Homo sapiens: one gene and its partners. The protein of the gene in region 1 purifies or fractionates together with the protein of each later gene. This does not show direct contact. Each region holds a gene or a part of one and is shown in the gene's direction. Other genes may lie near its edges. The genes, in order: GAN, CTNNA2, CUX1, ZNF469, ZC3H13, MAP4K3 and SPTBN5.

The links.
Region 2: the proteins of GAN (region 1) and CTNNA2 purify together in Homo sapiens (affinity purification with mass spectrometry, with the first as the bait; one study listed by BioGRID). This does not show direct contact.
Region 3: the proteins of GAN (region 1) and CUX1 purify together in Homo sapiens (affinity purification with mass spectrometry, with the first as the bait; one study listed by BioGRID). This does not show direct contact.
Region 4: the proteins of GAN (region 1) and ZNF469 purify together in Homo sapiens (affinity purification with mass spectrometry, with the first as the bait; one study listed by BioGRID). This does not show direct contact.
Region 5: the proteins of GAN (region 1) and ZC3H13 purify together in Homo sapiens (affinity purification with mass spectrometry; 2 studies listed by BioGRID and IntAct, with this or other methods). This does not show direct contact.
Region 6: the proteins of GAN (region 1) and MAP4K3 purify together in Homo sapiens (affinity purification with mass spectrometry, with the first as the bait; one study listed by BioGRID). This does not show direct contact.
Region 7: the proteins of GAN (region 1) and SPTBN5 purify together in Homo sapiens (affinity purification with mass spectrometry, with the first as the bait; one study listed by BioGRID). This does not show direct contact.

The regions. Positions count from the first base shown.
Region 1 is NC_000016.10:81,317,962-81,321,461, forward strand, and holds part of GAN (gigaxonin), read left to right. Parts: intron 1-3,500. UniProt on the Homo sapiens protein: Probable cytoskeletal component that directly or indirectly plays an important role in neurofilament architecture.
Region 2 is NC_000002.12:80,646,166-80,649,280, forward strand, and holds the end of CTNNA2 (catenin alpha-2), read left to right. Parts: intron 1-1,419; coding exon 1,420-1,707; 3' UTR 1,708-2,615; downstream 2,616-3,115. UniProt on the Homo sapiens protein: May function as a linker between cadherin adhesion receptors and the cytoskeleton to regulate cell-cell adhesion and differentiation in the nervous system. Required for proper regulation of cortical neuronal migration and neurite growth.
Region 3 is NC_000007.14:101,824,126-101,827,625, forward strand, and holds part of CUX1 (Homeobox protein cut-like 1), read left to right. Parts: intron 1-3,500. UniProt on the Homo sapiens protein: May be involved in intra-Golgi retrograde transport.
Region 4 is NC_000016.10:88,381,636-88,385,758, forward strand, and holds the start of ZNF469 (zinc finger protein 469), read left to right. Parts: upstream 1-1,323; 5' UTR 1,324-1,619; intron 1,620-4,123. UniProt on the Homo sapiens protein: May be involved in transcriptional regulation.
Region 5 is NC_000013.11:45,983,247-45,986,746, reverse strand, and holds part of ZC3H13 (zinc finger CCCH domain-containing protein 13), read left to right. Parts: intron 1-985; coding exon 986-1,450; intron 1,451-3,500. UniProt on the Homo sapiens protein: Associated component of the WMM complex, a complex that mediates N6-methyladenosine (m6A) methylation of RNAs, a modification that plays a role in the efficiency of mRNA splicing and RNA processing.
Region 6 is NC_000002.12:39,434,486-39,438,646, reverse strand, and holds the start of MAP4K3 (mitogen-activated protein kinase kinase kinase kinase 3), read left to right. Parts: upstream 1-1,361; 5' UTR 1,362-1,659; coding exon 1,660-1,755; intron 1,756-4,161. UniProt on the Homo sapiens protein: Serine/threonine kinase that plays a role in the response to environmental stress. Appears to act upstream of the JUN N-terminal pathway.
Region 7 is NC_000015.10:41,891,254-41,895,476, reverse strand, and holds the start of SPTBN5 (spectrin beta chain, non-erythrocytic 5), read left to right. Parts: upstream 1-1,423; 5' UTR 1,424-1,578; intron 1,579-1,919; coding exon of another isoform or gene 1,920-1,979; coding exon 1,980-2,195; intron 2,196-2,398; exon of another isoform or gene 2,399-2,415; coding exon 2,416-2,583; exon of another isoform or gene 2,584-2,700; intron 2,701-4,223.

The DNA.
Region 1 (3,500 bases):
TGATAGAATGTCTTGGGATGTTTTTAAAAATTATCAATTCCGAAGCTGTTTCAAAGTAATTTGACGAATCTGTATCACTAACTAGAAAGAAATTTGTTAATTTTGTATTTTTACTGGTAATTTTAATACCAATAATATTGGGCTTTTATAATGTACTTGTTTGTTTGAATAGCACTTTAGAGAATTATATTGAAACAAAATATATTTATGTATTCTAGAACTTGATGTTTCTTATCTTTCCCTTTTGAAACTTAAGCATTTAGATCTGTGATATCATTAATCTGTGAATTGAATGTTCAAAAGTTTGGTAATCTCTGAAGTTTTATAAAATTCTGATTTTGTTTAATGTCTGTGTTTGGCCTAGTGTTGGTAACTGTCATAAGTGGTTGTGTGATTGTGTGGTTTAGAAGCAGTGGTATGGCCTGGCATGGTAGCTCACACCTGTAATCCTAGCACTGTGAGAGGTGGAGGCGGGAGGATCGTTTGAGGTCAGGAGTTCGAGACTAGCCTGGGCAACATAGTGAGACCCAGTCTGTACAATAATAAATCATGTATATAAAAAATAGGAGCAGTATTGTCTTTTGCTTACTATGTGCCCAACAAAGGAAGCCAGTCCAACTCTGTCACACTGGGAATTAAAGTAACTTGTTTGGCATACTTTCTACTTAATATAGAAAAGTCTTTTGACTTATTGGTTTAATCTTTTATTCTGCTTTATCTTTGGTCTAGCCCTTGTTTTTCCTGCTGACACCCTTAGCAATCCTACCATATTAGAAAGATTTTAAATATAAAAGGAAAAGGCCAGAAAACTCAGCTTTGGCAACACACCCTCATGGTCAGCTCAGAGAGGACTGGCATCCCCGGGTTATGTAGAGAGAGCACGTGTCATGCAGCCCTAGGGTGCAGCTGCTCCAGGAAGGAGGCAGGACCTCCTGCGGTCCCTCAGCTCAGTAAATGGCATGCATGCCCCTTTCCCAGCATGCTCCTTTCCCAAAGCTTTTCCTCCTTTTGGTTCCTGGGTGAGATTTTCTCTTTGGTTTGTTGGGGAAACTAAACCTAAAAGTAGTTGACAGGCTGGGCGCAGTGGCTCATGGCTGTAATTACAGCACTTCGGGAGGCTGAGGCGGGAGGATCCCTTGACCCCGGGAGTTCCAGGATGCAGTGAGCTATGACTGCCACTGCACTGCAGCCTGCCTGGGTGACAGAGACCCTGTCTCTTAAATTAAAAAAAAAATAGATATAGATTATATATATATATATATATCTAACAACCTTTCTAAGAATGGCAAAACCGAATTCATAGTCATAAGCACCCACAGAGCCTTTTCTTTCTCATCAACTCTGAGACCTTCTGGGGAAAGCTCCCTGCGGCTTGCAGGAAATTTATTTTTCTTTTGAATATTACAGTTTGGTCTGCTTCATGTCTGAGGCTCTTCCGATTCTGGCACAGTCCCATTGATCTGATGCAAAGTTCAGACCCATTTCTCTCCTGAGCTGTGGTTCTTGGTGAGTAATGTATGTGAAAAGGATTTGAAAATGAACGGCTATGTGCTTCTGCAGTGACATTATGGTGGCTCTGTACAGGTTTCCAGTCCTGTGATCACTTGTAAAATTTAGGGTTTTCTGGAGACCTATTGCAACAAAAGTTTGTTTAGCTCTCAGTCCTGGAGAGAAAATGAAAAAAAAGATTCCTAAGATTTTTAGATCCTTTGATGAGTCAGCTAAGAATGTAAGTGGCTTCCCCCCGACCCCCCCTTATTTTTTGAGAGAAGGCAGGTCTAGTGAGGATAGAATGAGACATAGGGCCTCAAATCCAGCCTAGGTCATCATGAGCGACTTTTCTGGGCTCTAGCTTCCTTATCTGTGAAGTGAGGTGGTTGGGCTACATGGACAGCAAATCCCCTTTAAGTCTAAGTTATGTAGCTCTATGCTATTTTTGTTTTGCCTCATGTGTATGTGTTGTGAGGAGGAGGACCTGTTTCTGTTTTTATAGCTTTATTGTGTCATTTAAAGTTTTGTTTTATGTTAATATTAAAGCATTTCCATTCCCCTGTCATACAGGACTTTATTGGGTATTCTGTTGTATAAATCCAGGCCTGTAGAGTTGTATCACAACAATCATTTATTTTATGCTGTTAATCTGGGTATGTTCCAAGGCCTAATTATTGATGAGCCTGTTTTGCCATTTAAATATAAAGTTTGACTCACAGATGATACTGATGAAACTACTTAAGGAGACTAATAGGATCTCTGTAGGAGGTCCAAGTTTCATAGTAACATAGACATTATTTTTTGAATATCTGAAACATACACTGTAGTTTAATGTCACATGGGCACTAAAGTCCGTGAGTACTATGTGGTGTGTGCAGAGCCTGCTTTTCATCCCCAGTTTACTTTTGTTGATTAATTTATGTGAATAACTGCATAGCCTCTTATTAGATTCTTTGCTTCCCTGTTAATGCTGAGAATACACTCCCGAGGCAGCAGTATCCACTAAGTGTTCCCTGGTAATGAGAGTCTGGCTGTGAAGCAAAGTGATTTCACAGTAATGTTCAGTTAATAATGTTTTGCTTTCTTTACAATATTTTCATAATCTTTTCTTCACTTGTGTTTCGAGTTTATAGTCTTCATAGCAGCTCCCGAATGATTGTCATAAGGATCTTGAATAGTGATTGTAGCCTGTGAAGTTTCTTAGTGCTCAGGGGTTCAGTTAGAAGCTCCAGTTTCTGAGTATCTTTTGAAATCCTGAGCACACTTAAAATAAAATTGACATTACCTGTTCCTTGTACTCTTATGGTGATGGAAAATAAGCTGGGCTTGAGTCTCTTTTAAGGGATCTAGACTTTGTTTTTATCTACTTACTATAAGGCGTTCCTAACAACTGCTCAGAAGATGAAATTTGTCCAGAAGGTCTTGATAGTTTAATGGTTCTCAGTGATTTTCCTTTTCTTTTTTTTTTCCTTTTTTCTTTTTTGTAATCACAACCTTGTTTGATTAAACCCTATTCTTACTGAGTTTTTCAAAAGCGATAATAACTATGTTCAGTTTCAGAAGATCAAAGACATATTTTATCCAGGCTTCTAAGGAAACTAAGCACTTGTAAATTTCAATTTAACACAGATTACTCATGTCAGTTTAAAGATATTTGTTTATTTTATATAACACAGTGGTTGCCACTATTAGTAGCAGTAGATGTTCTAATTCTGGAGAGGTTTTTGGAAGGTTTCAAATGATGAAACAAATCAACAAAATTCTTGTTAGACTAGTGTCTGTAGCATAGAGGGAAGTGTGGGGTGTTCAGATTTATCGTAGAACTTTCCCGAGGATTGTTATTATGAGTAATAGTAATGTGATAGGAGTAAAACCTAGCTCTGGTTAATTTTCTCTAGTGGATAAGTCCTCACTCTTTTACCTATACTGTTTTTACTTCTGCCTCTTCTTATAGTTTGCATTTTCTCCTGTGATGTCTCCTTCAATGTTCTTAAATTAGTTTTTGTTAT
Region 2 (3,115 bases), on another chromosome or scaffold:
AGATCTACAGTCTCTCAGTTTAAACACTTTCTTAGTCACCTAGCCCCCAGAAGGCTTAATGCAGCTACAGTTCATGAAGTTCATGAATTACAGGCTACACAACAAATAATCTCTCCAACTAGGAACAGCATACTTAAGAACATCTTTGCTTCCTTCAGTTAACTGTAATTGATATATCTCATTAGTTGATGTTACAAGAAGTTTGATGAAAGATCAGACTATGCTCAAACATCCCTGAGGCTGGAATGATATTTGCAGTTCAGCTGTTAATTCTTTTCTTTCACTAGCTCACATGTAGACTCCTGGCTGATGGAGAGTCTAGGAAATGCATTTTTGAGCCTCACCAATCCTGAGCTCAGGATATAGAAATAGTGTATAGATAAATAGGTACTTCCATTGGTTGGGCTATAACATTGAGACATAACCCCAGCATCTGTGATGCAGGCAGTGAAGCAAGAAGGTTGAAGAAGATATTGAATGATCTAGTATACAGTACATACCACACTAACTACTTAAAGACAGAAAAAAGGTAACCCAAAATATTCCTGGCCTAAAAGTCTGGTGATGGGCCTCTAAACCTATTCTCAAGTTGTGACTTGTCTTGGCATTTTTAAAAGCCATCCTATCCAACAAGGTGACAGTACAGATGAGTAGTATCTTTAAAGACTAAAACCTGTGCTAGTTACTGGACCTCTGCATGTATCAGCTCTCTCATTCTAAAAGGGCATGACGATAATGCCTATATTATAGAGTTGTTAACAAGAGCTAAGTGGGAAAATACAAATTTCTCATAATAGTATTTGGCACATAGTAAATACTGAATATTTCATTAATGCATGTATGAGAAGGTCTCACTGAATGCTATGAGATCCTGACATAAGTATCAGTATTTATATAGGAGGTATACTGAGGACCTGTTAATAGTTAAATTGATACTCCAAGCTCAATTAACACCTCATAGAAGCAAGAACACCCATGGATTGTTCTTCTGCCTAAATGACTGTATCCTCACCAACCCTGAGCTCAAGATACAGAAATAGCCTATAGATAGATACTTCCATTTCTTGGGCCATAAAATTGAGAGGTAACCCCTTATAACTTTTTTTCTTTAGTGTCTGCCAAATGCTTGTCCAACATTTGAGTAAATGTCACCATTGCTAATTACCCTAATGTAATAATATGAGATGTTCTACTTTGGAAAACTTTTGTTACCTTGGAATTCCTACCTGCTAAGATGAGGGCTTTGCCATTAGCTGTATTGAGATTTTAAAAACCTTAACTTGTGATAATTTGCTCCTTTTCAGCAATACTATTTATTTGCACAAGGAAAACATTATTTTAACCGTGAAAGTACATCACCATTTTGTGAATTTGGGGCCTCCATTAACCCACATGTATCTCATTCTTTTCCTACTCTAGCTGGACAGTGCCACATCGCTTATCCAGGCAGCTAAAAACCTGATGAATGCTGTTGTCCTCACGGTGAAAGCATCCTATGTGGCCTCAACCAAATACCAGAAGGTCTATGGGACAGCAGCTGTCAACTCACCTGTTGTGTCTTGGAAGATGAAGGCTCCAGAGAAGAAGCCCCTTGTGAAGAGAGAAAAGCCTGAAGAATTCCAGACACGAGTTCGACGAGGTTCTCAGAAGAAACACATTTCGCCTGTACAGGCTTTAAGTGAATTCAAAGCAATGGATTCCTTCTAGGACGATAGGTTTTAACAAGAAAGCTTTTTCTTTCTTTTCTTTCTTTCTTTTTCTTTTTAATTCCATTTTTGTATGCATACCTGCCAGCTCGTATGCCTCTGGCATGGGGAAATTAAGGGAACAGTGTCTGTTTGCATGTAAGATGAGATGAGATCAATACTACTGATCCATCTGTAGCCTGGGAAGGAGACAGGACATTCCTGTACTAAGGTGGCACAGAGCTGTCCTTTGCAACATTCTCATAAAATTGGGCACAGAGTTCGCATTGGCGCAATATTTATGGGAGTGGGAGGGATGGGGAAAATAAACTTAACTCTACAAAAGCAAACTCTAATGCATGCAAGAATCATTAGGTTGGCAGGTATATGCATAAGTGAAAAATCTGGAAGTGTAATGGTAGAACATAAAACTTGTATTGCTTCTGTTTCAGTGCAAAAATGTACTAGCCAATACGCTTAAGTGTGTGGCCCATGAATTGAACAATTTAACCTTGAAGTCTATATCCGTGATATTATGTCGATTTTTAACTGAGGGGAAATTAACTAGTCCAGCCTAAAATGCTTCTTTTAATCTGCATTCTGTTTCCTCTTCTAGTTGTGCCATTACTAGTGATCATGTTTTTTTCCCCCCTTTAATGAAAACAATAAACATCTATTTGAGACAATTAAAATCCTTCTGGGGGCACTGGAAGCACAATACGGTGACCAATCTTGCTTTCATTTTTTTTTCTTTTTAATTTGAACCATGATTTTGCTAGAAATAGAAGGCCCAGTGGTGGAATATTAGAGGGAAGGAAACTGACAACGTGTGAAAGTTAGAGGCAAATACATAGGTGTAGCTTGGAGTGCTGGTATCTAATATACCATTGTATTCACTAACTAACTCAAAATAAACACATTTAATCTTGACATCTCAAGTATGTTTTCTTTTTTAATTTTTTAAGTATGTACTTAATAAAGATTAGAGCATCATCTTCCTGAAAATTCATTAAAAAAATGCATTATGTTTTGGTTTTTAGAGATTAGTAATAAAATTTTAGAGATTAGTAATAAAATAGATGATATCCAAATAATTGTCATTTTTAGAGTTCACATATTTATTTTGTGGTTTGTTTTTCCACTTGTTTTCATTCACTTTCATACTGCATTGAAAATGACAGTCTTTCTTTGTAATAGAAGAGCCAATTAATTTAAAAATATTTTACTCATTTTAGACTTTTTCCTTTTAAGTAAGTTGGAAAAACAGGACCTCTGTCCCATTATTAAAAAGTGGTGATAGTATTTCAACTATGAACTGAGAAATGGAGAAAAAGTCCCCAAATAGTCACCTGAATTCTCCAAACTCCTCTCATTGGAATGATTGCTACAAGTTATCACATTACCATGTCTCCAAAAGGCTTCTAGTAAAT
Region 3 (3,500 bases), on another chromosome or scaffold:
CGCCCAGCCTGGAGTGCAGTGGCACAAACTCCGCTCACCGCAACCTCCACCTCCCAGGTTCAAGTGATTCTCGTGCCTCAGCCCCCCCGAGTAGCTGTGATTACAGGTGTGCACCACCACGCCCAGCTAATTTTTGTGTTTTTAGTAGAGACAGGGTTTCACCATGTTGGCCAGGCTGGTTTCAAACTCCTGACCTCAAGCAATCCACCCCCTTCGGCCTCCCAAAGTGGTGGGATTACAGGTGTGAGCCGCCGTGCCTGGCCTCCACTCTTTTTAGACACCTTTGTTGAGTTGTTGTTTTGGGCCTGTAAGTTTCTCTGGCTTATTACCACTTTCCCCTCCTGTTTCTAGGGAAGAAATGATTATTTAGATAAAAAATAATTTGATAAAAGGTAGCAGATGATACCAAAGGTAAATCTTTGTCTTGAAGAGCCTGAAGCTGTGAGCATTGGTAAAGCCGTGGGCTGCAGTGAGGGAAGGGCCGGCTTGGAGCCGCCCTCAGCCTAGCCTCCGGGTGTTACCTGGAGCCCTTGCTGTCAGGACGGCCTGTCACTTCTCGCCCTTCTCCTGCCCTGCCAAGCCTGTCCCTTCCTGTGTTGTGACAACTTTTTTTTTTAAACAAGTATTTCTACAGCTCCATTATTTTGAGATTCTTGGAAGAAAGATACTATGTAAATGAAAATTAAAAATAAAATTCTCGCTGGAGGGAATCGTATACATGTAACGTTTTTGATGAGGTTTGGAAAAGACTTTCGTTCTCCCTCTGGAACTGGGAACATTCTGTGGCTCCCGTCACCATTTCTGTGTCACTCTGAAAGGTGTGGCAGATAATGGTGAAACATATTATTTTCTGTTTTTCACCAAGTAGTTGACCCAGAACTTGAACCCATGCAGTCCTGGGTCCAGTGAATTATTTCTGCTGCATACAGTTCTGCTGTGTCCTCGCCGAGAGCGTAGTCAGCAACCGCCCGGAGAATACCAACCTTTCAAAAGAAAAAGGGCTGGAGTCCCCAACATACAGAGATTACAGCTAAAATTACGACCAGAGCTGTTAATCAAATCCCATCTTCCCTTCCTATTCACACAGTAGAGATGTTATAAGTCATACAGGTTTGAGACAGAAAATTGAGAGCAGAGGAGCATGTGTTTAAACCAGCATAGAAACATTCATTTACCAGAATTGCTTTATTTCAGCCGTATCTCAACTCGTTGCTTACACAGTAACGCATGCTGTCTCGTCACTCAGCCAAGTGGGAGACAAGTTCAGGTTTCTGCTCCATGGGATCCAGGAGCCTGCAGTCACCGATGAGCCTGGAGGACCACAAGGTGGCCAGGGCCCTTGGAGAGCTGTGCTGCGGAATCGTAAAGCTACCATCCGGAGCTGGCCGTCCCAGAGGGAAGGCTTGGTCATCTCTTCCCCTCCACCTGGTCCTCAGCCCTGGTCCCGCAGTTTGTCATCCCGCAGTTTGTCAGCATCGATGTGGGACTGGGAGAGGAAGGATATTGCCAGTTATGGTTGAATGTCATTGTCAGGGGAGTAAGAAGTAGTTTGTGATTGTTTTACGTGGCTCTGTGTTGGTATATAATTATGCTGTCATCTTAAAACGCCCTGATACCTTAATGAAATCTGTGTGTGTGTGTGTGTGTGTGTGTGTGTGTGTGTGTGTGTGTGTGCGCGCGCGCGCGCAGTTAGTCTTCGGGGCTGCTTATTGTGTGTGAGAGCCAAGTCTTTCTAACACACGAGCTGAGTGCGTCGTCTTTTACTTGTTTCAAAACTGCCCATTCGAAACAGGTCGCAATCCATTATAAATGCAGCTGCCAGATTAATCTTCCCGAACCATTGATTTCATCATGCCATTCCTCTCCTTAAACATCCATGGTGGCCCACTTAGGCACAGAGTGGAGACCACATTTCTTAGGGTAGCAGACAGAGTTCCTGATAGTCCTTTCTGCCCCACCTAAACCTTTTCCATCCCAGCTAGAATGACTCCAGAATCTTGCTTATTTGGGGGAGCTCCCTCCTCCTCCCTCTGTACATCTGAGCTTCAAGCCTACTTCAGAATTTTTTTGTTTTTTTTTGTTTTTGATTTTTTGAGGCAGGGTCTTGCTCTGTTGCCGGCTGGAGTGCAGTGGTGAGATCATAGTTCACTGAAGCCTTGACCTCCCGGGCTCAAGCAATCCTTCCACCTCAGCCTCCCGGGTAGCTGGGACTATAGGCATGCACCACCACGCCTGGCTGATTTTTCCATTTTTTTTTTTAGAGACAGGGTTTTGCCCTGTTCCCCAGGCTGGTCTTGAGCTCCTGGGCTCCAGTAATCCTCCCTCCTTGGTCTCCTAAAGTACTGGGATTATAGAGGTGAACCACTGCGCCCGGCCTTCAAGCCTATTTCATGCATTCCTTTTTCTTTTGCCCCTGTGTGCCCGGCAGTAGTGATGGAGACTTAAAATAGCAGTGGCTTCCCGCCTAGAGGGCGGACAGGACTGGCAGGACGAGGCTGGGATGGATGGAGCAGTGTGTCTGAGCCTCTGGGAAGGCTGCAGGAAGGGCTTGGAAGGCGGGTCGGGGAGTGGGCAGGGGGCGCCCACTGAGTTCTGTGTGCTTGGGGAGGTGTGGGAGACAGGGCTTTCCAGCAGAACAGTCGTGGGGTGGCCGGGGATCTCTAGGGCTCCCCTCTGAGCTTGGGTTCCCTCCCTCTGCCCTGATTATCCCTTGGGTACCCACCACACCATCGCCACACAGGCCCCCACTCTCTGCCTTGTGTGTCCGATTTAGGACTCATTCAGCTGGTTAAGAATGCAAAATTAATTCTTTTTTTTAATATAGTGAAAGCAGGTAGATTATATTAAAATGGCTGTGTTTTGAAAGCTACTGATAGGTACACCTATGGAATAGATGTTTCTTTTTCAGTCCCATTAATTATCTTTCTGTGCAAAGTAACATAAGTGTTACTTTTTCAGTCCCATTAATTATCTTTCTTTGCAAAGTAACATAAGTGTTGGTTAAAATACAGTTGACCCTTGAACAACATGGGGATTAGGGGCTGATCCCTTCTGCTGTTCCCCCTACCCCACCTGCACAGTCAAAAATCCACGTATAACTTTTTTTCTCCCCTCCCCTCCTTCTCTTCTCTTCTCTTCTCTTCTCTTCTCTTCTCTTCTCTTCTCTTCTTTTCTTTTCTTTTCCTTTCCCTTCCTTTTCAGACGGGGTCTCATTCTGTCACCCAGGTTAGAGTGCAGTGACATAATCATAGCTGACTGCAGCCTGGACATCCGGGGCTCAAGCAGTCCTCCCACATCAGCCTCCCAGTAGCTGGAACTACAGACACTCACCAGCATGCCTGGCTAATTTTTAATTTTTTTCTTTTTTTAGAGACAGGGTCTTGCTTTGTTGCCCAGGCTGGTCTTGAGCTCCTGGGTTCAAGTAATCTTCCTGTCCCAGCCTCCTAAAGAGCTGAGATTATAGGCATGAGCCACCAGGCCCACATAAAACTTTTCATTCC
Region 4 (4,123 bases), 7.1 Mb from region 1:
CCCAGGACCTGGAGGCCCCAGATGATGCCATGGAAATGTGAGCCAAGCCTCGAGCCTCTGGGGCCTTTCAGCCCCTGCCCCTTTTTCAATTCACGTTTTCGCGTCCACTGGCAGGAATGCCATGTGCTGCGATGCCAGCACAGAAACCCCACTGCCATGTGCAGTTCCTTTTAGTTTATTCTATACCGTTCGCAGAGTCCCAAAACAGCTTCAGGAGGCAGACCAGATTGGGGGAGGGGCAGGCCCACTCATTGGCTCCACCAGAAGGCCCGTGGTTAGGCCACACCTTGCTTTACATAATAAAGGTGTCCTTAAAAGGGTGTGCAACTTGAACTTGCGTAAGTAAAGCGTGCTTGACCTGCTCCCGGGGGACCTTTGTCTGAAGGACTAATTCTGAAAGCATTCCTTTCTGCGAAGTCCCCCCACTGCCACCCTATTTCTTAGAAGTCCACCAAGTTCATGACTTGGGATCCTCTGAAGTGGGGGAGGGCGATCCGTCCCCAGATGCTGCCCGTAACGCTGCACCCCTGCCCTTGGAGGAGGCCCACACGCCCCTGTCTGGGACAGCCGGGGACGGGCACGTACTGGGCCAGGGGGCTCTGCCTGGAGCCATCTCCGCCGTGTGGCCTTGGGCAGGTTCCTTGTCTTCTTCAGGCCTTGGTTTCCTTGGCTGTGAATGGAGATGTTGGACAAATGACCGGTAAGGGCCTCTCCCTCTCTAGGGGCCTGGATGGCTCCTAGCGCCCCACCAGCAATGCTGCCGAACTCACGGGCCAGTCTGGGGCAGTCCCAGGGCTGGACAAGGGACCCAGAGTGGAGACACGAAGGTCTGGGGGCAATGTTAGCTCCCACCTATGAGAAAGCGTGCCATGGGGACCTCCTTATGGTGCCTTCGAGGGCCAACTTGAGCCACTCAAACCGAACTTGCCCAGGCAGGTGCCAGGTGCCAGTCGGGACATCCCCCACCTCCTAGACAGAAGCACAGGGACAAGCGTGTCATGTGTGGGCACCTGGGGAGCTGGAGCGCAGGCCAGGGATGGAGATAGAGCAGCCACTGGAAGCCACATGGGTAGCATTATGGCAGACGTTTTTTAAGTTGTGCTGAATGCAGCGTTTCCGTCTCAGCAGCAAGGCCTGCCATTCTGGGGTGGGCTGGCTGGGGAGTGTGAAGAGGGGGTTCAGGGAGCAATGCCTCAGGGCCCCCCATCGCCGGGGTGGGTCCCATGAAACAAACACCTAGGAAAAGCGGCGCTAAAAATAGCTGGGGGGAGGGTGCGGGGGCGGCGGAGTCTGTAACCTAAGCCGCCCCAGCCTCCGGGGGGCAGACCCCGCGGCCGCCGGCCGGCGTCCGGCCTTCCCAGCACCCGGCCCAGGGCTGGAGCTGGCTGCAGGGCTGGCCCGCGGCGACCTGGGCAGGGTGGCGGCTGCTCCCTCTCCTCCCACCCCGCCCCGAGGCGCAGCGCGCGGCAGAGCGGCTCGGTGCCCGGCGGGCGGGCGGCCCGGGCGGGCCTGCGGTCGGGATGAGGACGGCGCCTCCGCTGCAGAGCGCTGGGGCGGCGCGGGCCGGGAGCTCGTTGGCGGCGGCCGGCGTGGCGGGCGGAGCGGGCCTCGGAGCGGAGGTGAGTGCGGATGCGCCGCCTGGGCGCGCGCGGTGCCTGGGGACCCCGGGCTGGAACGCGGGGCGGGGGTGTCACCGGGCTGCGCGGGGGTCTCCGGCCCGGCTCCCGCTCCTGCGCCCTCGGGGGCCGCTCCCCGGCGGGGCCGGACCCTCCCAGCGCTCGCGGCGCCCGGCCCGGCTCCCCCGACCTCCTCCTCCCGGGCCCGGACGTGCGGGGCAGCGAGCGCCGGGGCCCGGCGGGGGCCGCAGCCTTGCCCGGAGCGGAGCGTTGGCAGCGCGGGGTCCGGCTCCGTGGGCAGTTTGGGAAGCGCCCGGGCAACGTACTGGCGAGGGCCGCGGAGCGAGGGGCTCGGGGAGCGGGACCTCCGGGCGGGGCTGCGGGGAGCGGGGCCCGGGCCGCCCCATTCATCGCGGATCGGAGCCGGGGGTGCCCCAGCCGTGCCGCCGCCTCCTCCGGGCCGCCCGCCCGGGCGTGCTGGCCCCGCGGCGCTCCGAGCGCGGCATAGGCTTGCGAGTCGGCGGTGTCAGCGCCCCGGACGGGGGTGGGAGCTTTGGAGCCCACCCTGGGGGAGACCACGCCGCACCCCCGCCCAGCCCCGCGCACCCCCAGAGGCTTTTGCAGAGCCGGGAAGTTGGCTGGACGTCTAGACCCGTGGGGACGCGGCGCCCCGCGTGGCGGCGGCCGGAAGGGAAGGCCAATGGGGCTCGGGGGACTCCCGCGGCCACCCAGTCCTTGTCCCTGCACCCTGGGCCGAGGGCAGAGGGACAGGTCCCCGGCGGGGGCGGGGGGGCAGCTCAGCTGCCAAGTCCGCTCCTGCAGCGGAGGCGGTTAACTGCTTCATCCCCAGCCGTGAGCCATGCTGGGCATAGGGAGTGTGCCACGTGTTATCACGTTTAATCCTTACGTCCTGAGATCCGTGTTAACCCAAGTCTTAGATGCAGAAACTGATGGTCAGAGTGGGCTGATGCTGGGAAGTGAGCACAGCACGCGGTAGTGTCGTGGACAGCCCCTGCCCATTCTGCCAAGAGCAAGTCTAGTTCCCTTCTGCCGGTCGGGTGGACAAAGGTGTCTTGAGGCCCTCTCAGTGCCCAGCCTGTCCTAGGTGCCCCCAGCACAGCCCACAGCCCTGCATTCCTGAAAATAAACAAAATAAACAGGTAAATGCCTGGACAGCGTCGGGCGTGAGGGCTGAGCAGGGAGCTCGGAAGCTGGGGCGGAGCTGCAGTTTTAGGAAGGGCAGCCAGGCACCCTCGGAGGAGGTGGCCTGGGAGACGTGTCTTCCATGCCATGCGCCTGGCAGGTCCCAGACCACAGGACAGAGCTCACCGGGAGGTGATCATTCTGCCCTGCAAATAGAAAAGAGGAAGAGGATATCTGAGGCAAAAAGGAAGGCCAGGGCCTTCTCAAAGGGAACCCAGGGGCCCCGCAGAGTCTCAGCTTGGGAGGCACAGGTGAAGGGTGTGTGGCTGTAATGCCCCGAGGCTGGCAGCTCTGGGCAGTGTGCAAACCAGGAAGTCCCAGGATTTCAGGGTCAAGGGAAATTTTGGGGTCATGAACTTCAACCCCCTCATCAGCGCTTCAGTCTCCACCAGACCCTGCCTCCAGGTTACTGACTCTGCTTGGATACCTCCAGTGACCGGGAACTCACTCCCCATCACAGCAGCCTGTTCCAGCCATTCCTGCAGTCCTACCAGCTGGAATGCACTGGTCCATCATCCTGAGGCAGCAGGCAGCACATCTGCTCAGCTGTTACACATGGCTGCCTTTGGATAATTTTAATAGGGATGGTCTCCCCCTGTATGCCTAATCTCTTCAGGTCATTTCTGACTTGACATTCCTGGTCAGGCCCCATCCTGCCACCTTCCCCTGGGAGAAATTCAGTGGGTTTCTGCCCTTTCCTCGTGTTTGCTGAACGGAAGTAAACCTGAACACCAGGGTGGCCTGGAAGCAGAGATGCCCTCCCCTCCTTTCTCCTGGAGTCTTGTCACCACCGATAGTGCCCTAGATATCAGGCCATGGTGGACTCATCTGGAGCCCAGATGGTTTCAAGACAAGCCCCCTACCCTCCCTTCCGGTTCTGACTCCTACTAATAATTCAGTTACCAGCCGGGGATGGTGGCTGTGTAATCCCTGCAATTTGGGAGGCTGAGACAGGTGGATCACTTGAGCCCAGGAGTTTGAGGCCAGCCTGGGCAACATAGTGAGACCCCATCTCTACTAAAAAAAAAATTGAAGTAAGTTAGCCAGGCATGGTAGTGTGCACCTGTACTCTCAGCTACTAGGGAGGCTGAGGAGAAAGGATTGCTTAAACCCAGGAGTTCAAGGCTGCAGTTAATGATGATCGTGCCACCGCATTCCAGCCTGCGTGATAGAGTGAGACTCTGTCTCAAAAAAAAAAAAAAAAAATTCTGTTACCCTGCCTGCCTCCTTGTCCAAACATAGGGCTGATGATGTGGGGAATGCCTGTGTAGTAGTTAAGAGTCCAGGCTCTGGGAACAGCTGCT
Region 5 (3,500 bases), on another chromosome or scaffold:
AATTCCAGAGTATAAGAGCACCTTGCAGAAGAATCTGATAAAAAGGGCAGAATTTATCCTTTGAGGTTCTCTTGTTAATTCTTTGGCTTCATATCAGATTTGTTATAATCAATTTGTGCCCTTTCTAAATATATGTAAAGAGTGGTTTCTAATCTTTGCAAATTATGGGGTTGACTAAGCCATCTAAGTTTTGGGCCTCTATTTCTTTATTATAAAATGACATGGTTTGTTTAGATAATCACTGTGGTTCAGCTTTTAAAAAGTGCAAGTATTTATTTTTTTGTATGAAATGCTTTTTTGTTCGTTCATTTTAAAGAGAAAAAGTCTCATCTTCCTATGTTGCCCAGGCTGAACTCAAACTCCTGGATTCAAGTGATCTTCCTACCTCAGCCTCCCAAGTAGCTGGCACTGTAGGTACATGCCACGTCACCCAGCTAGAAAATGCTCTAAGTAGAGAAAGCTTTAAAGACTTGCACACATGAATGTTATACCATTAAACAGTGCAGGAAAAGAGAGTGAATAATAGTATCACTCAACCAGCTAGCTTACTAACCATAGGCTACCCTAAAGTGCTTAAGTACATTTGAGGAGGTCACAGATGGTCTAGTTTAGCCTAACTTAATAGTTGATAGAAAAGATTAAAGTAACTGAAGTGTCTTTGTATCTAAAAGTGGTTTCTGAAAAGTAAGCCGTCAATGATAGGAGATGAACTTATTTGTTTCAGTTGTTTAGGATCTGGTAAGTTGGGGTGAGTTGGGGCAGTATAGGTAAGTTGGGGCAGAGGAAATTCATGTTCGGAGTTTATCTAATGAAGAACATTCTTATCAGGTGTTAATTATCTTTGGAATTTTAGCTTCTTTATTTTTTGCAAAGAACACGAATTGTCATTATAATAAAATTTTTAAAGTTCTGTATTAAATATGTTTTCTAGTTTCCTGAAACTTTGTAAAAGCAATTACAGTCAATTTCCAAAATTGCATTACAGATACTAGGGGCAAACGAGACAGAGAAAAGGACTCAAGAGAAGAACGAGAATATGAACAGGATCAGAGCTCTTCTAGAGACCACAGAGATGACAGAGAACCTCGAGATGGTCGGGATCGGAGAGATGCCAGAGATACTAGGGACCGAAGGGAACTAAGAGACTCCAGAGACATGCGGGACTCAAGGGAGATGAGAGATTATAGCAGAGATACCAAAGAGAGCCGTGATCCCAGAGATTCTCGGTCCACTCGTGATGCCCATGACTACAGGGACCGTGAAGGTCGAGATACTCATCGAAAGGAGGATACATATCCAGAAGAATCCCGGAGTTATGGCCGAAACCATTTGAGAGAAGAAAGTTCTCGTACGGAAATAAGGAATGAGTCCAGAAATGAGTCTCGAAGTGAAATTAGAAATGACCGAATGGGCCGAAGTAGGGGGAGGGTTCCTGAGTTACCTGAAAAGGGTAAGGTTTTTGACTTGTCTATGAACTATATCTTATATAGAAAGTATAAAATCTCCTAAGATTTCTAATATGTTGTTTCTTACATTTGTTATCATTTTGTCACAGTAATTTTTAATTAATTGAACTTGTAGTCTTCCTTATAAATTCCTAATTGGAATTACTAGTTAAAATAGCAAAAGATAAATGGAGCTTGAGCTAGACCCCCCCTAAGTATATCCAGTCATGCCTATCATCTTGATTAATGTGGAACACTAAGAAAATCACTATCAGACAAAAAAGTAGAATCACGAGGAAGTTGCTTTCTGTTAAATAGGTATAAATATGATAAAATGTTCATTAAATTAAAGTAGGATTAAAGTGGTGGGTTTTCAGAATTGTTGGCATCAGAAATGACTGATTTGTGTATTCTTCAGTATTTGTACTTGCTTCAGACCCTGTCAAACTGCCACACGTCATTATCTTGAGCCATTTTTCTTTTCATAAAAAGTATTTGCCATCACCCAAATGACTTAAATATATTGTAACTATTTCCAAACTGCTGAGACTTAATTATCATGACCTCTCTTTACCTCCACCTGCTTTTCTCCCCTCTCCCCAAACACTGCTGCAGAACTTTGATCACTTTTATTCTTTCCATTGGTCTGTTAGTCAATCCTTGGTCAGTATTACAGCTTCATATTTGTGTTGAGGGTCCTTTAGCTTCTTTGAGCTGCCTTGTCTTTTCTTGACCTTTTACTTTTTCATATCAATTTTAGAAAACAGTTTTTAATTTCATAAAAAAACTGTTGGATTTTTATTTCAATGCATCAACTTAATCAATTTATAATATTTCTCATTAATATTTTTTACATTTTTTCCTGTGTATCCTCTATTTTTTATTGCCATTTTAAATAGTACTTTTACATTTTGTAAGATGTAAATTATGTATTTACATGGTTCAAAATTTTGAATGTATAAAAGGATATATAGTGAAAAGCCTCCGTTGTACCCTGACCACTCTTTTGCCAGCTTTGTATGTATTCTTCCCAAAAAACATTTTACACAAGCAAATATATATCCATTTGTTTTCCCCTCTGGTTTTACAAAACTAATTTTTAAAAACACTGGAAAAAACTATGTACTGTTTTATATCCTACTATTTTCAACTAGTAAAAATATCTTTCATGTCTTTCTTTGTGGTAAACAGCTATTTTCTTCTTTTGGTACTTGTTCTCTATTGTAGAATATACCATAAAGTCAGCAAGTGCTGCATTACTGGGTATTTTGGTTTTCCAATCTTTATCTCTTTCAAACAGTGCTTTAGTGAATAACTGTGTACATATGTCACTAAATGGTGTCTTTTAAAACATTGCATTTTCTAATGCTTTGTTGGTACCTGGAAATGGTAATTGGCATTTGTGTATTAATCTTACATTTAAATGATGTTGCTGTATTTTCTTGATCTAATTAGATTCTCTTAACAGATGTTCCTAGGAACACACTGATTTGGCTCTTCTTTTCTGATTATTAATTTTCTGTCAGTAACCTTCTGAGCATCTTTATCAATACAGTGTTAAATATAAGTAGAAGGGGCCGGGCGCGGTGGCTCACGCCTGTAATCCCAGCACTTTGGGAGGCCGAGGCGGGCGGATCACGAGGTCAGGAGATCGAGACCATCCTGGCTAACACAGTGAAACCCCGTCTCTACTAAAAATACAAAAAAATTAGCCGGGCGTGGTGGTGGGCGCCTGTAATCCCAGCTACTCGGGAGGCTGAGGCAGGAGAATGGCATGAACCCAAGAGGCGGAGCTTGCAGTGAGCCGGGATAGCGCCACTGCAGTCCAGCTTGGGCGAAAGAGTGAGACTCCGTCTCAAAAAAAAAAAAAAAAAAAAAAAAAAAAAAATATATATATATAAGTAGAAGGGGCTTTGCTTTGTTTCAGATTTTAAAGGATTGTTGCTGGCATTTTATTACTAAGTATGGTGTTTGTAGATTTTTTGCAGATACTTTTTATTGTGTTAAGGATTAAGTTCTCTCCCCCCATTTTAGTTGTCAGAAAATACTCTGTTG
Region 6 (4,161 bases), on another chromosome or scaffold:
TCAAACATCAATTTAGTCAACAGATACTCAAAGTAAACAATTTGAGAATTTAGTACATATGCAATTTTCCTATGAGCAAAAGGATTCAAAAGATTTTTTGAAAAAGTATGAAGCAGTTAACTCTAAGTAGTTTGCTCTACTATTAATTTATTATACTTATCCTTAACAGGTTTGATGAGACCTAGTTTCTCAGGAGCCACGAGGTATTAGGGAATATTAGTGGTTAGAAGGTGTGGTGCCTAAGGGGATTAGGAAAGCATTTCTGAAGCAAAACTCCAACGTGGTATTGCCAAAGTGGCCATCACCTAATTGATTAAAGCTCCTGCAAATGTCTATTGGGAAGTTCAATGAGAACAGAAAAATAACCTTCCATTACCCTCAAGCTTTCTTGGGCAAGTATTAACAATCGGAGCTGGAGTCCACATAGCTCAGATGTAAGACGCGCAATCTGGGTCTTAAGCAGGGTGGGGTTTTTGGGTAGGTAAGGTCACAGCTAAAGAGCTTCCGGATCGTCACGTGTTTATATTTCAGGTGCGGTAATAGATCTAGTCCACTCTCCACCCCTTCTTTACAGGGTTGCTTGACAGCCTGCGCAGTCCCCGCCCGTCTTTGATAATCCAACCCTCTTCGAAGAGGGAGGTCAATCACTGCTTTAGTTCTGCGCTCTGCCTGCCTCCCACGCGGGATGGTGGGCAGCTGTTCCGCGTGTTTTCCTCCCGGAGCTTTCACGCTCTGCCCACTGCACACACCTCCCTCGCGGCCCTCCTGGCCTGCCCTCCTTTGCACCCTGGCAGGCCAACTCCAAGGGTCCGAGTGTCGGTGACAGGGGCAAGCAAGCACAGCTCACTTTTCCTGGGGGTTTTCCTCACGGTGTGTTTAGTGACCCCTCCCCGCAATCCCAGAAAGGCTGCAGCACTCCATGGTATCCTACATGTAGCTGCTTCTAAAATAATAAAGGCTGGGACATTGGCTGTCTTGGATATTACCACTATGCTACCTGCTTGGAACTGGGACCAGATAGACCAAGGTCCAACTTTGTCGTTAGGGGAATCAGAAACGAAAAGAAGCCACTTTCTGCTAGTCCTAACCCCGGTCCCTGGGCCAGGCAAACCTTTTCAAGCGTCCGGCGGCAGCGGCCGGGCGCGGGTCCGCAGAAAAGCCGAGGCGTTTCGGGTCCCAAGCTGTTCCGCCGCCGGCCCCGGCCTGGCAGGCGCGCGGAGCCGGAACGCGCAAGGGGTCGGGTGCGCGCCAGGCCTGGCGCGCTCCCTCCGGGATCGCGGCTGCGCAGTCGGGCGGGAGTCGGGAAAAGGGGAGGAGGTTGGAGGAGCCGGAGTAAGGGGAGGGGGAGGAGCGGCGAAAGCGGAAGCCATGTTGGAGTTTCACCCCGAGCGAGGGGCTGCGAGGGTTCTCCTCTCCTTGTGGGTGTGACCAGGTTCGGCGCGGCGGCGGGCCGCGGGGGGCGGGGACGATTGGCCGCTTGTCGTCGTCCGCAGCGGCGTGAGGGGAGCGGCGGCGGCGGCGGCGGCCGCAGCGTGGAGCCGGGTGATTGTGACCGCCGGGGGAGCCGGGAGCCGGCCGCGGCGCCCTCTCTCCGTGTGGCCCCCTGAGCGGCCCCCCTCCCCTGCCCGGGAGGGAGGCGGGGGGCACCTGGGGCCCGCCATGAACCCCGGCTTCGATTTGTCCCGCCGGAACCCGCAGGAGGACTTCGAGCTGATTCAGCGCATCGGCAGCGGCACCTACGGCGACGTCTACAAGGTAAAGGCAGGGGCCGCGCGCCGCCGAGGCCGTGGGATCCCGACCCGCAGCCAAGCCTGGGCGTCCGAGCCCTTGCCGCCTGTCCTCGGGAGACGCTGGCGCCAGGGAGCAGTCGGGGAGGAGGAGCTGCGGACGCCAAGGGCTCTGCTGCCTTGGTGAACAAAGGGCCGAATGTTTAACCCCGAGACCTCCCCAGCCCTTACCTGAGCCCCCCCGGTGGACATGATTTTTGCCACCTCCCTTCTTGCGCGCATTTCCAGGGAAGGGCAGAACGAGAGCAGGCCACACTGCTCATCCATAGTGCAGAGAAGGTCTGGGCGTTTGTTGCGTTGGCAGGGTCAGCGCGACGAACCGGACAGCAGGGGTCTGGTGTTGTCAAACCTGCCTGCTTCACGCCAACCTGGGGTCGTCCGCTCTAGGTTGGGAGCTGCTGCCCACCAGGCCTCGGTGGTAGTTATTATACTATGCTGAGCGACCTCCATCTTCCATCGACAGCTCTCAGCCTTTAGCGCCTTATTCATCCCCCTGTCAGTTTCTTTTAATTTTCCAGAGTAATGACTTTTTTTTTTTTTTGGAAAGAGCAACTTTGTTTTCTCTAAGTCGAATTGGACTGCGATGCCATTTAAACTTGTTTTTTAAAAAGTGACTTGAATACTTAGGGAAGGTACTGGTTTGACAAGGTTAGAATTCAAAGTCCAGTAGCGGTACAGCATTCCTGTTGTAGAGGGACCACTTCTAAATGTGGGAAGATAAATCACTCTTCCCTGGCCAACTCAACTCTTGGCCTCACAGTTACTGCCAAGAAGAGAGGAGGTTGTTGCCAAATGTGGCAGCAGTCTTGATTTAGTTGTGTATCTTCTTACTGGTAACTGAAGTTGAACTCCTCCAGTTTCACATAACACCTGAGGATGCACAAAGAAACTTAATTTTGCATTGGAAAGTTCAGTCTTAACTTTATTTTGCCCATGTTTAAGCAGGTTTTTACTCTTCAGTGTAATGCCTGTGGTAACTTACATATTTAATACAGTGCAGCCAGTGTTCTGCTTTAGTCTGATTTTCTGGATGATCTACTTTTCACCATCGTGGATCTCATCACTTTTCCTACTATGCAATATAGATATATTGAGCCCACCTACAATGTATGAGATACTTGGCAAGTAAGCACTTTGGGTTGTAGCAGTAAACGATAGACTTGGTTCCAAATCTTCCTAAGTGTTTCTATTTTTTTGGACAAGGACAGTATTAAATAGCCATTTAAATAATTATTGCCGTTTAATTTTGTGATGCAGAAAAGAGTATTAGGATCAGGGTTATGAGAGCATGTAATAGGAGGACCTGATCCTGTTTAGGGTATCAGACGCTCATCGCCTTTCAGCTGAGATCTCAGAGATGATTAGGCGTTGCTTAGGGTACTGGGGAGAGGGGATTACGCCAGATAGGGGAGCATGATATGTGAAGGCTCTGAGGCCCGATGTGAAAGAAGGCCTGTATAGCCTGAGCAGCCAGAGCGGGAGGGTGGCCCTAGATCTTGCAGGCCTCTTAGTTCTCATTAGGAGATCGGACTTGTTTAGGACAATGGGGAACTATTGCAGGCTTTTAAGCAGAGGAGTGACATTAGATTTAGGTTTTTAAAAGAGCTCCCTACTACAGCATGAAGAGTGGAATGGAGCAGTTGGGAGGCCACTGTGATAGTCTAGGTAAGAATAATGGTGTTAAGGAATATGGTGATGACTGTGAAAGTAGAAGTGGATGGATGCAAGTCACTTATGACTGGTTGGGGGAGTTCGCTTATATTGCGATGAAAAGTTAACTAAAACTCGATGAATGTATACGTTTTAGGTGGCAGGGTATACAGTGAATTTTTTTACAGGACTAATTGGCTGTGTACTTGCTATATTAAAAAGAACAGTTAGTAGTTAAGCCACATGATTAAAAAGCAAAAAAAAATTAGGGCCTGTAATTTCCTAAGTGTAATAGAGGTATACTAAGTTGGTTAATCTTGTCATTCGTTTAAAATAATGATAATACTAGCTGATGTTTATGGAATGCTTGTTACTTGCCAGGCACTATAAGATTTTTCTAATTAATCCTAACAGCAACCCTGTGAGATAGGTGCTATTGTTAACTCCATTTTGCAGTTGAATAAACTGAGGCACAAGGAGATTAACTTGCCAAAGTTGGTAGGTGGCAAAGCCAAAATTTGAACCAATTAGGGACTGTATTCTTAACCAATTGGCAGTGCTGCCTCTCTAAAGATAGGAGATGGGCAGATAATGTATTACATTTCCAGTGGAGAAACTGAGGCACACATTTAGTTTAGCATTTGAGTTGTAGCCACACTCTGAGTCAGTGTAGATCTTTAAGTAGTAGTTGGAATACCTAATTCCTGCTGTGCCACAAGGTCTC
Region 7 (4,223 bases), on another chromosome or scaffold:
TGGATGATGGAGAATGGGAAAGGACGTTCAAAGCTGAAAGAGCAGCTGAAGCCCAGCCTTGGGGCAGGAGAGCTCTGGTCCTGCTCAGGAAATGGTGAGTGGCCCATGGAGAGCACCCAGAGTGAGGGGGGCAGACTAGCCTGGTTAGGTAAGCTGGCAGGCTTCCAAGGCCTGGCTGAGGCAAGGTCTGGCAAGTCTGGATTTTCCTTCCCAGGCTGTGGGAGGCTTCACAGGCACGAGCAGAGCTGCACTGTGGAAAGGTGCGGGGTGGTGGTGTCCAGGATGCCGAGTTAGGGGGTCCGTGATGAGGACCCCCAGGGGCAGTGAGGGCAGAAGGGGGGGTGCACGGGAGGACCGCCACAGCAACTGCTGCGAGCAAGGGAGGGACGCAGGGTGTCTGGAAGCCAGCCGCTGCAGAAGGGGCCTGGCAGGGAGAGGACAGCAGGAGAGGAAGCGTCTCTCAGACGCAGGAAGCCGCACCCCACCCGAGACCACGGCACCTCTCAGCGTCACCCCTGACTGCCTGCAGTGGGCCCAGGCGGTTCAAGTGTGACTCATCCCTAGCCCAGCTCTCAAGGGCGCGCTGAGCGGCTGTCCTGCTGTGGGCTGTGGCTGCCAGGAGCGCCTCCCTGAGGAGCGGGCTGTCGCTTCAGAGGCTCCAGGGCCGCTGGAAGACACCCACACACACACACCCCAGCCCACACTGCTACCCTGAGTTTAGCCAGAGGCGGGTGAGACCCCCAGAATTAGAACTCGCCTTCACTCTGGCATGTAGTCCACGGCTGCTCGGGGAGGAAGGGATGGGCGCCCACCAGCTCCCTCTGCACCCCTGCCTCCGAGCCCCGGGCCACGGCCAGCTCTGTGGAGCCCAGAGTTAACACCGTGTCTCTAATTTTGGAGGAGACTCCACAGCCCTCGCAGTTCCAGGTCACCCCTTCCTCCAGGGAGCCTACCCTTCAGCCCCGGGCTAGGCAGGCTGCACTCTGGCAGGGCCTGGAAAGCCAAGCCCAGGGTCTGTGAGGCCCTCAGTCTATGGGCTGTTCCCTGGGGGTGAATGAGAAGACCACGGCCCAGGACGCTCCCTCATCCCCTCGCCCTGGGTGCTCACAGAGAGGCCCCAAGAGGGTACAGAGGGCAGTCTCAGATTGGGAAGTGCGTCCACAGGCTTCCCACAGAGGCTCTGCCCTTTGGTACCTCCTACGCAGACTGCAGCACCCCATGCGGTGGCAGGGCCGCTCCATGGGCCTCTGCGTCCTGGGAGCCAGGACCCCCACCTGGAGTTGGAGAAGTTGCTGGCGGGGAAGGGAGGATGATGAAGGAGGACATCATCTGGCAATGGCCCTGGAGCATTCCTGAACCACCCCCTCCCTGTCTGGGCCACGCCCTGTGGCAGGTGGGAGGACAATGCCGCCTGTGTGCCGTCACCCCAGCACGCTGGCTCAAGGGGAGGGCTGTGGTGCAGCCCTGCTCCAGCCTTGGCCTCTCCTGATGTCCCTCTCCCTCCCTCCACAGCCCCTGCTATCTGCCATCTCCATCCGTCCAGCTGGGCCGCCTCTGTGGAACCCAGGCATCACCAAGGTAAGCAGCCCCTGCTATCTACCATCTCCATCCGTCCAGCAGAGCCGTCTCTGTGGGACCCAGGCATCACCAAGGTAAGCAGTTTCCTGTCTTCCTTCCACCTGTCCCAGTCACTGTGGTGGAGGGACCTGGCAGCAGGGGCTCTGAGAAGAAGAATCTGGAAGGTGGGGTGGGGCAAAGGGGGCCCTGGGCCATTCAAGCACAGGGGACCAGAAGCACTGGCCCTTACCTGGCTGGGCTCCAAGCTGCAACCCCCATGAAATGTGAGGACAGTCTGGCAAGGCGGGACCCCAGGCCCCTGGTAGAGGGGCCATCTCCATTCACATCATCCCCTAATCTGCATGCCCTCCAGGTTTAGGGAGCCATCCAGCAGCTCCTCATCCCCAAAGTCTGCAGGGCTGATGGCTGGTCAGCCCCACAGTCCCCGGGAGCTCCTCGGGGCTGCAGGGCACCGCAGCAGGAGGCCCAGCACAGAACTCCGGGTCCCGCCCAGTCCAAGTCTCACCATGGACTCTCAGTACGAGACGGGCCACATTCGCAAGCTACAGGCCCGGCACATGCAGATGCAGGAGAAGACTTTCACCAAGTGGATCAATAACGTCTTCCAGTGCGGCCAGGTGAGTATAGCCAGCTGTGACCCACAGCCCACCCATACCAGGCCCCCAGCTCTGGCCAGTGGGCCTCCGGGGTGAGCTGTGGGGTCATCTGCCTGAGGCCAAGCTGAGGCCAGAGCTCCTTCTTCCAAAGCAGCTGCTCTGGGTCGTACCTCTCAGGTCCCAGGATGGGAGGACAGGTGAGGCTGGGCTGACCCCATACTTACCCCTGTCCCCTCCCCAGGCGGGCATCAAGATCCGGAACCTGTACACAGAGCTGGCTGACGGCATCCACCTCCTGCGGCTGCTGGAGCTCATCTCAGGGGAGGCCCTGCCACCCCCGAGCCGGGGCCGCCTGCGTGTGCACTTCCTGGAGAACAGCAGCCGAGCTCTGGCCTTCCTCAGGGCCAAGGTGGGCCCCAGGGAAAGGGGTCTGGGATGGTGCTGGGGCAGGCAGCTGGGACAGGCTGAACTACTGGGTCACCTTTCCTGCGCCAGGCCACTGGGCAGAACAGAGGAGCTGGGGCCTGAGTACAGGAGGAGTGGCTGGGACACAGAGGAGCAGAAGCCACGCCCTCCTCGCACAGCACCCCTGACTTGGAGAGCACCCAGCTGGCCATGGCAGTAGCAATCCAGGTCCCTACTGGGGTGGAAAATGTCACTGTCTGTCATAAGAGAGACTCACAGGATTCTAGGCCAAAAGAATCTTAGCGTTCTCTTAGGCTTTTCATTTCACAGATGAGGAAACAGAGGCCCTGAATTATTTACCAGGCAAGATCGATGGTTAACCAGCCAACAGAGCCCAGATGTGGGACTAAGACGGCAGGTGGGGAAGAGGAGCAGGGCCTGTCTTGGAGAAGGAGGGAGGAGGCCTCAGCAAATGGGGGGAGGCAGAGTCACCTGAAAGAAAGGGACAGGCTAAGGAGATGGGCACTAAAAGGAGGCCGGAGCTCCAGGGACAGAGGGACCCTCATGGCCAGGGTGAGGGGCTGGTGCAGGGGTGGGGTGGGGCAAAGGGATCATTGGAAACCGGGAACTGTGAAGGCCAAGGGCTCCTGGAGGTGGCTGTCCCTGGAGGCTGTGAAGTCACTGAGCTGGGCCTGGCTGGATGGAGCCTGACTGTGCGTGCCTATCACTATATCCTGGAGTGGAGCTTACATCCAGCCTCCTGGGGTGTGTTGGAGGAAAGCCAGGGAGGGGAGAAGCCCAAGCAAAGGGAATGGGAGTGACTGCTGTCCTGAGCAGGTGCAAGAGCAGAACGCTGCCAGCTGCAGAATGCTGGGCCCTAGTTGATCCAGGGACAATGACCCTGTGAGCCAGTCATCTCCCCTCCAGGAACTGGGGAAGGGTGTAAGCCCCACAGCCTTTGTCAGAGGTGTTGCAGCTCTCCCCAAGCTTTAATATACAGCATGTCACTGATACCTGTGAGGGTGACATCCTTGTCTCCATACACATAGGAGGCAACTGTGGTCTAGAAAGGATGACGGAGTTGCCGCAAACACACAGGGAATGTGTGGCAGAATGAGGGATGCATTCGCTTATGGAGATGCTCCCATGCCCTGGGCATTCTATGCAGGCGCTGGGCTCCACTAAGCAAAGCCCAGACCCCCACCTCAAGGCACCTGGCTTCAAAGGGAGACAGATTCATTGAACCCAGATCAGCGGTGTGCTGGTAAACGTTTAACAAATGATTCTCTGGGGGAAATAAAAACTCCAGTGTGCTGTATTCGCTGATCCTATGGCGTTAATACCCCCCATCACGGTGAGTTTAAGCCACCAGCGTGACATCGCTCAATAGGAAGTCAGGAGGATAGGCTCTCAGGAGCTGGGAGGAGCAGACAAACACCCCACTCACCAGAGGCTCCAACTCTAAGCCAAGGTGATTGACATGGCAGGTGGAATCCACCCCAGGAGCATGGGTGGGATCCTTTAGAGGCCAGCCAGATATACCAAAGTTTACCTAGGGGGACACCCAGGATTGCAGCTCCTCCCACAGGGCTAGTAGTGGCCGGCTGAAGCCAGTTGCCCTTCAGGTCTTATGGAAAGTCTCAC